Homo sapiens: one gene and its partner. The protein of the gene in region 2 interacts with the protein of the main gene of each other region in a pairwise test. Each region holds a gene or a part of one and is shown on either strand. Other genes may lie near its edges.

What was found. Proteins that work in one complex are often made in the same cells at the same time.
Region 1: the proteins of DAPK1 (region 2) and UNC5B interact in a two-hybrid assay, tested with the Homo sapiens proteins (one study listed by BioGRID).

Annotation. Positions count from the first base shown.
Region 1 is NC_000010.11:71,208,659-71,215,569, reverse strand, and holds the start of UNC5B (netrin receptor UNC5B isoform 1 precursor), read right to left. Parts: upstream 3,001-6,911; 5' UTR 2,585-3,000; coding exon 2,506-2,584; intron 1-2,505. UniProt on the Homo sapiens protein: Receptor for netrin required for axon guidance. Mediates axon repulsion of neuronal growth cones in the developing nervous system upon ligand binding.
Region 2 is NC_000009.12:87,633,854-87,640,874, forward strand, and holds part of DAPK1 (death-associated protein kinase 1), read left to right. Parts: intron 1-4,089; coding exon 4,090-4,228; intron 4,229-5,500; coding exon 5,501-5,630; intron 5,631-5,796; coding exon 5,797-5,845; intron 5,846-5,935; coding exon 5,936-5,962; intron 5,963-6,444; coding exon 6,445-6,597; intron 6,598-6,948; coding exon 6,949-6,994; intron 6,995-7,021. UniProt on the Homo sapiens protein: Calcium/calmodulin-dependent serine/threonine kinase involved in multiple cellular signaling pathways that trigger cell survival, apoptosis, and autophagy.

The sequences.
Region 1 (6,911 bases), on a different chromosome or scaffold from region 2:
ATGGTTCCAGTTTTGATTTCTCCAGCATCAGACTTTACAGCTTAAAAATATTCTCAGTGCTGTAAAGGGAGCTCATTCCCATATTCACCAGGGATGGGGTGGGGTGGGGAAAAGGAGAGAGAGGTGCCTGCCACTTGAGGGGAGCTTGGACACCCCCAGTAAAGATCCCTCTTTGCAGAGAGAGCCTCGCCTGCCTCAGTCTGTTATGAGTCTCATGGCAGAGGGGTGGGTGGATAAGAATAGGAGGGAGGGTCTGCTGGGCTTGAATCAGTCTGGCTATTGGACAGGAGCCCTTCACATGTCTTCAATCTGTGGCCAAGTGAAGGCAAGATTTGGAGAAAGCCAACACTCTGGCCTTGATTTTCCCCATCAGTGAAATGGAGCTTGTGAAGGATCCAATGGAAAAACCCAAAGAACATTCTGAAAGAATGATGCTCTGTGCCTGTGGCATTAGAGAAAAACAAGATTGTGTGGGAGGAAGGGACATGTTCTCCCTCCTGAAGGCAGGTTTCTAAGGGCCACACATTCTGGGCAATGAGAAGGCTGCAGGCCGACCCCACCAGTTGGCCCCTCTCCAGGCTGGTGGGCAGGCAGCTACTGCCGCACTAAGTAATGAGCACAATTCCAACACCGCTTCTGCTCGCTGGTGAGAAATCAAAGCCGGGTATTAGAGGCCATTTCTGACTGGGCACCATTCGTGCCCAAATCCATCAAAGCCCTGGGCCTGGGGTTTCTTCTGGGGAAGGTGGGGGCTGGATGCTTTGTTAAGCAGGAAATGCAGGCCACCCCCAGCCTTCTTGGCCAAGCCCACCCACCCAGAGAACTATAGGCCAACCAGTCTTGTCTTTCTCCTACAGCAGCCCCTCATTCCTGGTAACCTAAGTATTTATTCCTGATCCCACTGTCCTGCTGGTACAAAAGCAGCTTCCCAAGACACAACCCTGCCCATGTGCCATTTACAGAGACTTCACCCTACCCTTCAATCATCTCCTCAAACCCCCTCCAACCAGAAACCAGCACCCCAACCAAGCACCTCCCACGTCTAACTGCACCCTTTAAAACAAGGTTGGACATTCAGCAGCCTGCCTTCCCCATCCCCATCATTACCTTCCAACTTCAAAACACTGCTTTAAATACCAGAGTCTGCCCAAATCATAATTAACTTGGATCAAATGGTTGAGTGTTGTAACTCTACTGCACAGGACTTGCACCAGAAAAAAAAAAAAAAGTGGGGAATGTGCTAAAGCCAAGCCCTCACTCCTGGCCGTGGGAATCACTAATTCCAGAATGAGGAATCTTTGGCTATGGAGGGGGGAAGGGCGGATGTCAACTTCGCAGCAGGAGGTAGGAGGTGGGGAGGGCTGCGTCATCTCGTCCACTTTCTGCTCCAGTTTTCCTGCTCCATTCTCAGCCTCAACTCAGAGAGGACTCCGTGCAGGAGGCCCCGTCCCCACCTGGCTCCGGAGCCGAGCCGCCCGGCAGCCGTGGCCAGCCCACTTGCTTGGGTTCGGGTACCAGAGAGAGGCTGGCTCCATTCAGTCCACAGCCTCCCCGAGAAGACGCAGCCCAGCCAGCGACGCCGGGTCCAGCTACAGGACGAGCGAGAAACGTATTCATCCACGGCGAGAGAGGAGGGTTAGGGACTTTATTTCGGAGCCCACCAGTTCGCTGAAGTCATCTTGGTGGGTCCAGAGCGGGCGCTGTACCAAGGAGAGCGCACCTAGTCTGTTCCCCGGACAGCGAGAATGTCAGTGACCAATTTAAAAGGAAACTCCGCAGGATCGCTAAGAACCCCTACCCGCATCCAACACACACACACACACACACACACACACACACACTCTCCAACACTCAGAAAATTAATAATAATAATAATAATAATAATAATAATAATTCTTCCAGACCTGCGGGCCCAGCGATCTCGGGGAAAGCTATGTGTGCAAGACTTAGCCCTCCCCGCTTCAGGAGCCCTGCAAGCCGGCCTGCCGAGGCTACCGAAGCGCTTCCTGTGTTCAGCAGGTCTTTTCGCTCTCTCCCTCTAGTCTGCAGATTGCTGTCCCTATAGCGCGTAAGAGCCTAGGCGAGCCGGGACCAGACTAGTAAGTTACCGGCGTACGGCAGCGAGCGCACACCTTGCTTATGTAGCCAATGTTCTTTTTCGGGGCGGATGCCAGGCGCGCGGAGAGCCGGGCGTCCCCAGGAGGCGGATCCTCCCGGAGACTCAGACCCTGACTCCTACACCCCTTCCAGGGAGAAGAAGGGATCCCTTTCAGGAGCGAGCAGGGACCTTTCAGCTTACTGTGAAGCCCCTTCCCTGCTCCCCGCTCCCGCGATGTGGATGCGCCATTGCCCACTTTGGGAGGCAGTAAAATCTACATTCTAACTTGGGCGCCCTTGCCGCTTTTCCTGCGCGCATCGATGCGACGAAAGACCACCTCAACTTCAGGACAGAGTGAGGCGCAAGGGTCCCCTAGCCCCGCGCCCCCAGACCCGATCGCTTCCTACCTGCTTGGCTCAGCCTCGGGTCCCAGCAGAGCAGCAGTGCCAGCAGCAGCGCGCCCCGAGCTCCGCTCCGGGCCCCCATGCTCCCGCGGCCTGGTTCGGGCGCCTCTCCCCCAGGGCTGTCTCCCTGGCCCCAGTCTCGCCGCCGCCGTCTCCGCCGCCGCCGCCTCCTCCTCGCCGTCCTCCCCGGCGCCCGGCAGCGCCAGCCCGTGCCTTCCGTGGGGGCAGCGGAAGCCACGCTGCGCGGAGGGCCGCCTGGCACTCGGAGCGCGGTGGGTGCCTGGCGCCGGCTCTCGAACGAGGCTCCGGCGCGCCCCTCTGGCTCCGGGTCTCTGAGCGCTCGCCTGGCTCCGGCGCTGTGCCTCCGAAGTTGCGCGACCGCTCAGTGGCGCTCGCAGCGGCGGCGCCGCGCAGTCCCAGCCCCAGTGCGCGCCTCTCGGAGCCCCGCGGCTGCGTGCGGCTCCGGCGCCCTAGCCGGCCCCAGCCGCCTGCCACAATGCCGAGCGCCGCCGCTCGCTCGCCGGAGTGAGTTCGCCAACCGAGGGGACCGCGCGCGGCCGGGGCGGGGCCTGGGCGACCGAGGGCGGAGCCGACAGGGGGACCTTGAGGGGGGATCCGACGGCCATCTGGGCGCGGCCGCGGCAGAGCTGGGGGACCCGGGGGGAGGGTCCTCGCGAGACGCTGGGCGCAGCGTTTTGAAAAACCCGGCCGCTGGAGAATGGCTGGACGTGGAGGCGGCCCAATTTTCGCTCCCCCAAATTAAGGAAATCTGGCTTTGCGCCTTCATTTGGCTTGGCCATGTCAGCTTTCTCCTCTGATTAAACATAGGACTCTCACTTTTGGCTCCCCTGTCTGTAGTATGCGCTCTGCCTTCCACATGTGGGGGTCTTTCCAAAAAAAAGGCTCCCAAAATGAGAACACCCAAGTCCTGGTTACGCGGGGGCTTACAGCGATATGAAGCTGGGTATAGATTAGGATCATCCTGGCTGGCTCTGCTTGTCTGTATGATCTCCGGCAGAACTGTTAACCAGACCCCTGGAAACCCCTCCAGCACTCTGATCCTGCGTTGTTGTAAACTAGCCTCCTACCTGACAGTGGGACAGCCATTTTTGGCTCAGTGTAAACTTGGACTCTGCCCCTTATTTACTGTGTGACCTTGAACAAGTTACTTAACAATTCTATTGCTCCCTTCATCATCATCTGTAAAATGGAGGAAAAGGATAACTATTTCATAAGGGGGTATAGAATTAAATTTTAAAACTTGTGTGGAAATTGCAGTGCAAGTGTCAATAATCTCTTTCCAAGATTCTCCCCTCCCAGCCAGTCTGATTCCAGGGGGAAAGTCCTGACCACCCAAAGGTGGTCCAAGGAGCACGTGGGGACAGGTGAGGTTTGAAGGATGGGCAGTGTCTTGGGATTGAAACCCAGAGAGATCAGAACGAGCGGATCAGCTAACATAGGCAAAGACCTTCCCTGTGCCAGGCACAGGGCTAAGCACTCTGTATGCATCATGTCAGTTAATTCTCACAACCCTCTGAAGTAAGCACCATTTACATCCCATTTTACAGATGAAGGACCTGAGGCACAGAGGTGTAAAGCCACCTGCCGGAGATCACACTGCTTGGAGTGACTGAGTGACTGAGCAAAGGGGATGGGGGAGATGGGATTGGAAAGAAACCCTCTAAACGGGGGAGCCTCACTTGAACACCTTCCCTGGGGCTGGATTGGGCTGTGCGAAGGGGACTGTCCTAGCTGTTTCCCCAGAGGTGAGGTGAAGGCAGGACTAGTACCCTCTCCACACACACTCCCCTCACAAGCCGGGGTCTTGGAGTATCTAGGGGAGGTCGTGCATGCCATCAGCACATCTCCCTAACCCTCTCTGACTGGGCACCCAGCATCAGGAGGGTGGCAACAGGTGGACTGGGACTCCCTGGGGGAAGAACTTCCATCAATTGAGAAAGGCTGCTGTGGGCAAAGGTAGGTTGCTTAGCTTGGCCTCTGACAGCCCTAGCAAGGGCAGTGGATGAGACAGTCAACAGCTCAGCACACCCAAACCAACTCCACCTTGCAAATACACATGCACACACACAACTACCCACCCATACACACCTGCAAAGGTACACACACGAAAACATACAACAAAGACAACAGGTGCAATGTTTCACCTCCCATAAACATCACACCTACAAATAGGCACCCGACTCCAGAGACACCCACATACCAAAGATGTATGCCTAAAAAAAGCAAACACACAGGCGCACACAACTAAAAACACAAATAGGCAGATGACTCCCAAGACAAATAGATATTTGGATACTTAACTACTGCCAGGAAACACATACAGGCACGCCTGTGCCAAGACCCACATCTGACGGTCATCCCCTGGATGCAGGCACATGGTCAAGGTTGTGCCTGTGCTGGAGAGCTCAGCAGGGACCTCAGCAGAGACGGGCAGCATGCAGAGACCACAGCATGTTCTCTCTCTCTCCCCAACCTCTTTCTCTCTCTCCTTCAGGCCAGTGGGGTATTGGAGATTTTTCTAAAAAGTTCCACCCCTTGGAACTTTGCTGTTTAGGTGGTAAAGTGTACCCAGCAGGCCCTTCTAGTCCAAGTATCAGGTTTCACGGCTTTAATTCCTGGGTGGAGAGAAGGGGGACTGGAGATGGGGGCAAGCAAAAGGAAGACATTACCCCCTCTCCTGCCAGTCCCTGCCCCACTTCCCTTCTCAGCCTAACCACTCTCTCAACTCTTGAAATATACTCTTGGGAGGTCCCGGGCCCTGCTCTCCCTCCAGGACTCCAGCATCAGGGCATGGGATTTTGCATGTTGGGAATCTCTCTGTAACTGCTCTGTGCCCCTGCTCCTGTACCAAGTCTCTGAGCCTTCTCTAGCCACCTGCAGCTGAGCAGTTGCAGATGTGGTTCCTCTCCAGCCCTGGCATCTCAAGAGTGCAGGCTGTCAGTTGAGGCCAGGCAAGGGGCTTCAGAGGGAGTCAGACTCCCCCTGAGCCATACCTTTCCCCGGGATGGGTGAAGAATGGGCAGGGTCCCTGCCTGGGGGATGACACATTAGGATAGCAGGATTAAGATTTGCCAGGGTGTTCCCAAACCGAGTGCCATGGGCCTCACAGCAAAGGCATCCTGCTGGGAGTTAAGCATGAGGACGAAGCAGTGAGTTGCTTGAAGTCAGGTGCCCTGTGTTCCCTGTTCCCCATGATATATCTAGCACTGAAGACAGTTTCTGGCATAGCAGGGATGCAATCAACCTTGGTTGAGTGGGTACATCAATAAGGCTGGGGGGAAAGGGGTTGATGGTCAAAGGGCCTAAGAGTTGCTATGTGAGCCCCACCCTCCCCTCCCCTCTATTTCCTGGGGTCTGGGGGTTCTGAGGCTGAAAGTAGGGCAGGCTTTGTGGCATAGATCTGCTTTGAAATCAGTCCCAGAGCCAGTTCTCACCCTTGGTGGGGACTGCAGATGCTTCCAGCGGCTACCATCACTTGTCTCAAACCACAGGAGTGTGTAGGAAAGAGTTCTGGATCTGGAGGGCTGTGGCCCTAAACCTGGGGGCTGCTCTTACCTGCTGGCGGATCTTAAGCCAGTTACTGAAACTTTCCCAGCGTCAGTTTCCTCAACTGTAAAACAGGAATAATAATTACTTCACAGTATTAAGAAGAATAATAAGGCCAATAATCTGGCTGTATAAAAACCGCCTATTTGATAACAATTACGATTTAAAAGCAGCTGTAGGGGCTCCCGGCAGGAGTGGCTGCCGGCTTGGGGTTGACGCCTCCCGCTCCGTCGGGACCGTGTGCGCGAAGGTGCCACCAGGCGGCGCGCTGCCGCTTACGCCTCCCCGTGGCCGCCAGTCTCCCTCCTCCGGCGATGGGAGAATTGTCCTGGCCCCACCCCGCCTGGGGCCGCCCTGACAGAGTCCTTGTCCCGGGTTGTCAGGGGAAGTGGCACTCAGACGACTCCGTTTGCAGGATCTTGAGTGGGAAGGCTTGGGAATGAGTTCACGGTGCCTCCCCTGAGTCGTTCGGTCCAGAACGGACCCCAAAAACCTGGACCCTGGAGAAGGGAAGCGCCTAAAGCTGAAGTCCTTAACGCTTTACCATCTCTTTGTAATAATATTATCAGAGCTAAGGTTGAGTGCTTACTATATGCCAGGTACTATTCTAAATCTCTTCGGCCGGGCACAGTGGCTCCCGCCTGTAATGCCAGCACTTTGGGAGGCGGAGGCGGGCGGATCACTTGAGGTCAGGAGTTCAAGACCAGCCTGGCCAACATGGCGAAACCCCATCCCTACTAGCAATACAAAAATTAGCTAGACATGGTATCGTGCTCTGTTAATCCCAACTACTCGGGAGGCCGAGGCACGAGAATCGCTTGAACCCAGAAGGCAGAGGTTTT
Region 2 (7,021 bases):
AGCAGACTCTGAGATGGAGAAGAGTGTGCATGGTGTTTATTAAGAACTATACTTAGGATCAAGATTTGGAGAAGAGGAGAAGGGGGCAGGAATGGGTTTAGTGGCAGCCCCAGTTGGCCAACAGGGAGTTCTGGGGCCAGAATGACCCTTGAGAGTTGCCCCAGGTTGGGCTGTGATGACCTAGTCTTTATATCAGGGATCAGCAAGTTATGGCCTATAGGCCAAACCCAGGTTGCCACCTATTTTTTAACTAAAGTTTTATTGGAACACAGCCACACCCATCATGTACATGTCATCTGTGGCTGCTTTCATGATACATTAGCAGAGCTGAGTAGTTGGGACAGACTGCAAGGCTGGCAAAGCCTAAAATATTTAGGATCTGCCCTTGATGGAAGTTTGGCAGGCCCTGTTATGTTCCCTCATTGATCAGTTGCTGAATGGACAGTCTCTGACCTCTGTGGCCTCGGCTGCGCTGGAGGGTCCCCTTCTAAGGTGCCTTCCTTGCTCGAGGCTCCTTGGCCTTGTTCTCCAAGGACATCTCTTCTTCCTGGGTTTCTCCACGTGGCACAGTGGTTTGGCATCGTCGTACTTCTTGCATCTTACCTGAGGGCTTCAGGAGGTGGGACCTGGAGGCCCCCAGTCCATGAAAAGCCACAGCAGGGCTGGCAAAATCACTTGTGCCATTGGTCAAAGTGATCATGGGGCCTGCCCAGATTCAAGAGATGGAGCCACAGATGCCGCCCACTGCCTGAAGGAGGATGGCACAATCACGGTGCAGAAGAGCATGAGGATGAGATGCTGTCAGACCGTCTTCGGAAAAATGTGGAACACCATGGCAGGCCAGGTGGCTGCTCGGCAGTGCCGTGTCAATCCCAGCTCACCCAGGTCACCGCTGCAGTGCCTGTCCCTCCCCAACTCCACCCACGGTCCCTGACATCACGTGGGGAGGGAGTTTGAGATGGCCATGGTGGGAATGTGACACCTCGGGAATGGGCTCTACCCACCCCAACGCCAAAGAACCTGCTGCACACCCCTGCTGCCATGGGAGGACTTCTGGTTTGAAGCCACATGGGAAGAAAGACAGCAGCATTTATTGAGCACTAAGGGTCGCTACATGTCCTGGAACCTCAGGATGACTCCGTAAGCTATGATGTTACCCTTTATTTTATAGAAGGGGAGTCAGAGGCTCAGCAAGGTTGGAGGCCCTGGCAGGATTTGAACCATGGTCCCCTCGTTTTTGCCATCCTGCCTCACAGAAGACGGAGCTGGCAGGAGAAGGAGATCCTGGGTCTGAAGAAAGCTTAGGTTGGCAGGGAGGGAGAGAAAGCTGGCCAGAGAAGAGCGGGCAAAGCCTGAGGCCAGGGCAGCATGGGGTTGCCAGAAGGCTGGACAGTGGAGTCCCTGGAAAGGACTCAGGGCCAGCAGACTGCGCCAGCTGTGTGGGTGCTGGAAGATTCACCCCAACCAGGCAGCCAAACTCCTGACGTTTCTCATTGTCTGAAAAATGCATCTCTGTACTCTAAGACAACACAAGCAGAATGCGAGTGAGGTGGGCTCGGGAGGCCCTGAAGAGGGCCACGGAGAGAAAGCCGGCGGCTGGGCACCACATTCACAGCAGAAGTTTCAGTTCCTTCCCCTCACCTTCTTCCTGGGAAGCACAGTGGTTAGGCTCAACCAATGGACCAGTTTTAGGAGGAGGAGCGGGCAGGAAGGGGCTTTCATATTGGATCCTGTAGGAAGCAGTGGTATGCTACAGGGGTGACAGTGGCCTTCTTTATAACAACACTCGTTCCCGCAAGCTGGACCTTACCCACGTGCCAGCCTTGCCAGTTACACATGTCTATTACCTTTCATCCTCATAACCTTCAAGGGAAGAGGTCTTATGACTCCTCTTTGGGGAAATGAGGCTCAAGAGAAGGGGTAACCTTCCGGGTTTCAGGGTGAGCGCGTGGCAGAAGTTAAGACTTGGACTGGATGCAGGCACTTGACTTCTCCACATCACGTGGCCACGGTGCCTGAGTCAGCCCAGTGGTGCGGGGCGCCCCAGAGAGCACAGAAGCCAGGGCTGGAGACCCAGGTGTGATGGGAGAGCTTTCTTTGGGTGAGGTTGGTTCACAATCTCCCACTTTTTCCCCCCTATAGTTGAAGGATTTTCTCTCCCCGTTGTTTGTTTTAAGAATAAGATGCAAAAGTGAGAAGCGGGAGGCCTTGCCTTGTTCCGTGGGCAGACAGTGTGGGGGCTGTGAGGCCAAGGACACCTGGGAGGGGAGAGGGTGGGGGCAGACTGCATCTCCCAAGAGCAGGGTGGGGAGTGCAGGGAAGGGTCAGGAGGAGAGCAAGGCCACTGCTGAGGCAGGGTCCATGTAGGACACCTTTCGCTTGGACTCCTGGATGTCCTGGCTGGGCCCAGGCCCTGCTGTGTCCCCTGGAGGATAGGGGAGGCCTGTGGACTGCTCACAGGAGGGTGTGGCTACCTCTGCCAGGCCCCTGGGGATAGGAGAGTCACTCCACCATCCCCGTAAACCAGTGGGAGGCCCTGCAGCAGGAGCGTGGAATTAAGACGTGGGAAAATGGTCTCAGTTTTTCAGGTGCTTGTTAAAGATGCTGAGTTTTCTGGTCACCATTCTTGGAAGCCCTCACACAGCAGATTGAAAGTGAGGCTCAGAATCTTCATTTTTAAAGCATCCTCAAATAATTCTGATACCCATGGACTCTAGACCGTGCTAAGGAAAACACTGACCTGGAGGGTGAAGGCATGTGGGATCTGAAACTTTTAAGAAAACAGCTTTTTTGTCATTCTTATCTGATCTTATGAGCACCAATTTTCTTACTCTGAATGGATGTAGATGTGGAAGGTATAATGTTTGGGGAGCGCTCTTGCCCTAAGAGAGATAATGAATACAGCAGTTTGTGCATAATTGCACTTAATTATTATGTTGTGAATATATGGTTAAACTTGATAAAGATTAACTTATAAAAACTCTTATTAAAACTTCCCTGTTATTTGCCATTCATCGCTATCGTGGAGTTTTTAGGGGAGCTTGTTCGTCCATCCACCTGATAAAGTTTTGAATGCATGCTGTGTGCCTGGCTCTGGCGGGGAGTGGGGCATACAGCAGTAGCCAATAGCTGGGGTGGGAGGTTCTGACCACTCCCCTCCACCCACTTACAGTCTGGACAGAGAAATAAACTAAAAAAATCCGCAACCAACAACATACATTTTGCTTTTTTTGTAAATGTATTCTTTTTTTTTGTTTTTTTGAGACAGTCTCGCTCTGTCACCAGGCTGAAGGGCAGTGGCACAATCTTGGCTCACTGCCACCTCCGTCTCCCAGGTTCAAGTGATTCTCCTGCCTCAGTCTCCCGAGTAGCTGAGACTACAGGCACACGTCACCATGCCCAGTTGTTTTTTGTATTTTTAGTAGAGACGGTGTTTCTCCATGTTGGCCAGGATGGTCTCGATCTCTTGACCTTGTGATCCGCCCGCCTCAGCCTCCCAAAGTGCTGGGATTACAGGTGTGAGCCATTGCGCCCAGGCTACTAAATGTGATTTTTATAAATGTGTTAGTATTTACATACAAACCAATACTAGACAAGAGAGGAAAAAACCCTTATCAGACCATATATTGTGAATTTGAGTTTTAAAGAATTAATTAAACATGCAAGTTATGAACTTTTCAGGTACTCTCTAATTGAAATAAGAAGATATACACTATAAATTCTGTACAAAGCTGGCTTGCAGATTTTTTTCTCGTCATTAGAGTTAAGACATCACCTCTAAGTATGTTTAATTAAAATGTTTTCAAGATACACTGATATTTTCTTCACAGCATTTCATCTCTGCCCCTCCTCTCATTTGTGAACACGGAACCTTAGGAAAATGGTTCCCAAGTGCTTTCAAGCACAAATGTGTCTGAATGCAGAATTGTCAACAACCTGCACAGAGAATTCTGAATCCATGCTTGGCGGTTTCAGCATAGTCTTTATGCTGTTTTCTTGTCTGAAGTTTGAGCGCACCAATAGTCTATGAGAGAAGGAATCAATATGAAACAGAGTTGTTACCAATAACCTCTGCTTCCGGGTTCTCAGCGTTGCAGGTGGCGAGCTGTTTGACTTCTTAGCTGAAAAGGAATCTTTAACTGAAGAGGAAGCAACTGAATTTCTCAAACAAATTCTTAATGGTGTTTACTACCTGCACTCCCTTCAAATCGCCCACTTTGATCTTAAGGTACGTTTCAAAGTGTAAGCCAGATAGAAGCTTGTGCAGATCACAGCCTTGGTTGTTTCTCTGCTAAGAAAAATTGAGGCATCTGAAAGAGTTACATGATTTTCCTGTACCAGTTTAACAAACAGAAATATCACTATAAATCGGCAAGCATAGGATACATGCCCCCCACTGGGATGGCTAACCTTTTTGTGGGATAGAGGCTTAATGATAATTGATTACATTCTGGAATTCTTGGTAAAGAATACAAGGGGTCTTAGGAGCCAGGTTTTTTAGTAAGGGGGCTGCTCTAGCCAGCAGCTAGTGACTGGCACTGGTTCCTTCTGTGGCTCTGGGCATGTTAAGATAGAAAATGTGTTGAGTGATGCAAAGGCGTATGGCCTGACTCTGTCACCAATAATCAAGCAAACCAAACTCAGATTGGCTAATTGGGGCATTTGCCTGGCTGGATGCAGGACGCTGTTGGAGATGAAAGGGCATGTAAGCCGTCCTCCCAGCCATGACAGAGGTGTGGTCTCTTTGGGAAGGGAAGACACGACAGGAGCAATAGGAAGTGGCAATGGTGGGAAGTTCCAGTTCAAGGCAGGAAGAGGTGGTCTGGTAAAGCAGCGCGTGCTCCATCCGAGTAGTTGATTCAGACCAGTAGAGCTGGGATAGGATTTCAGAGGAGGGAGGATTTTCCCCATTCTTCTGTAGCAGAGCTGTCAATGTCCCATTCATGTCCCTGCTGGCCCCACAAACAATGTGCAAAAGCACACACTCATATACATCCTAACAGAGGGCTTGTTGCAAATACCTGTGACTCTTCCTGGCATCTTGTTTCTGGCCCTGGGAGCTGGAAATGCAAAAGAAAAATGTCCACAGAAGCAACTGTCAGCCATGGAGGATGGAGAAATGGTGGATAAAGACCCCAGCTCCCTCCTGCTACAATTGGAATAACACTGAGTTCTCCTTTTCCTCTCCCATTCCCCCAGTTACCCCCACTTGATAGGACACCTCGTAGCAGCTTCCTTCTGTTTCCTGTATCTCCTTTCTCTACCAAGTGTTTCCTGGTGTCCCCTCCCACATAACCCACTTGCATCCGAATCCTTGTCTCAGGCCTGCTTCAGGGAGAACCTAGAGCAAGACATGTATTTTCCTGCTGTTCTCTTCCAACCACCCTTTCTTCCCTACTTTTTGGCCTTTTTTTTTTTTTTGGAGAGAAGAACTATTCTGCCATCTTGTCCTCAGCATAACATATCATAGCTTTTTATTTATCTCTCTCTTTTTTTCAAGCCTGAGAACATAATGCTTTTGGATAGAAATGTCCCCAAACCTCGGATCAAGATCATTGACTTTGGGTTGGCCCATAAAATTGACTTTGGAAATGAATTTAAAAACATATTTGGGACTCCAGAGTTTGTCGGTAAGTTTCTTTGCTCCTGTGGTCATTTACGTCTCATAAACATTATTCTGGCAAACCTCCCCTGCTAGAAGATTCTTTCCCTGCTACATGTTCCTGGTTGTTGCATGAAGATAGAATCGGTTAGTTTGCTTCCTCCCAAGCTAAATGAGTGTTTGTTTCCTCTTAGCTCCTGAGATAGTCAACTATGAACCTCTTGGTCTTGAGGCAGATATGTGGTAAGGAGTATGTCCTTGGTGTTGTTTGCTTTCTGATTTATTTGACTATTCTTCTGACATGTTTTTTTGTTTGTTTTGTGTTGTTTTTAGGAGTATCGGGGTAATAACCTATATCCTGTAAGTATCAGAATTCACAACTCATACTCTCTTCTCTTCTATGAGACCATAGGTTTAATTAACCATTAAATGTGCTGTGTTGATCTCTTCAGCTTATGCATGCTTTTGATGCAAACATATTCATTTTACACCCCCAAAACATGTTTAGTTTATACTAATTAAACATGTTCTCCTAATTTGAAATGAGTCATCAGAAACTGTAGCATAATCACTGAAAGAAAGCATAGCTGTCCATCACTGCCGAGAAAACAGGTTTCCTTTAAACTACCAGACGCTGTTCCAGATTAACTTGTTAAGTGAATCCTTTTGCCTGAAGCTGAAGCATTTGCTCCTGACAGTTAAAGCCCTATGAAATATAATCAAACTGTGACTATTCGAGCACCAGATTATAATCTTATTCCACACTCCAGATGTTATAGGAGCAAAATGACAACACCAAGGGGTCATCATTAATGTTCTATGCCCAACTTTATTTTTAACAGCCTAAGTGGGGCCTCCCCATTTCTTGGAGACACTAAGCAAGAAACGTTAGCAAATGTATCCGCTGTCAACTACGAATTTGAGGATGAATACTTCAGTAATACCAGTGCCCTAGCCAAAGATTTCATAAGAAGACTTCTGGTCAAGGATCCAAAGTGAGTGTCCACGTTCCTGAAAGGTGCTTGGCCACGGCCTCAGCCAGCCCAGAGCCTGTGTCTGTTCCATGCACAGGGCCACGTTCCTCAGACCCTGCTTGCTTCATCTGCCAAAGGGCAGCATGCCATGTGAAACGCTTCAGAAAATGCAAGCAGGGCCCTCTGCCCCCACTCAGTCAGTCCCTGCAGGCACAGTGAAATAATCACAAAAAGACCGATGTTGTTTTTGGCTTTCTTCCCTGAACTGCATTTTCCACAGTATCTGCTTGGCAGGCCCAGCCAGCATGAAAACAACCTTAGTATTTGCTGCTATGGTCACAGCATTTTTTTTCTTCTCCCCCTCCCCTCAAGGAAGAGAATGACAATTCAAGATAGTTTGCAGCATCCCTGGATCAAGGTGAGTTGCATATTACGAAACTGTTTA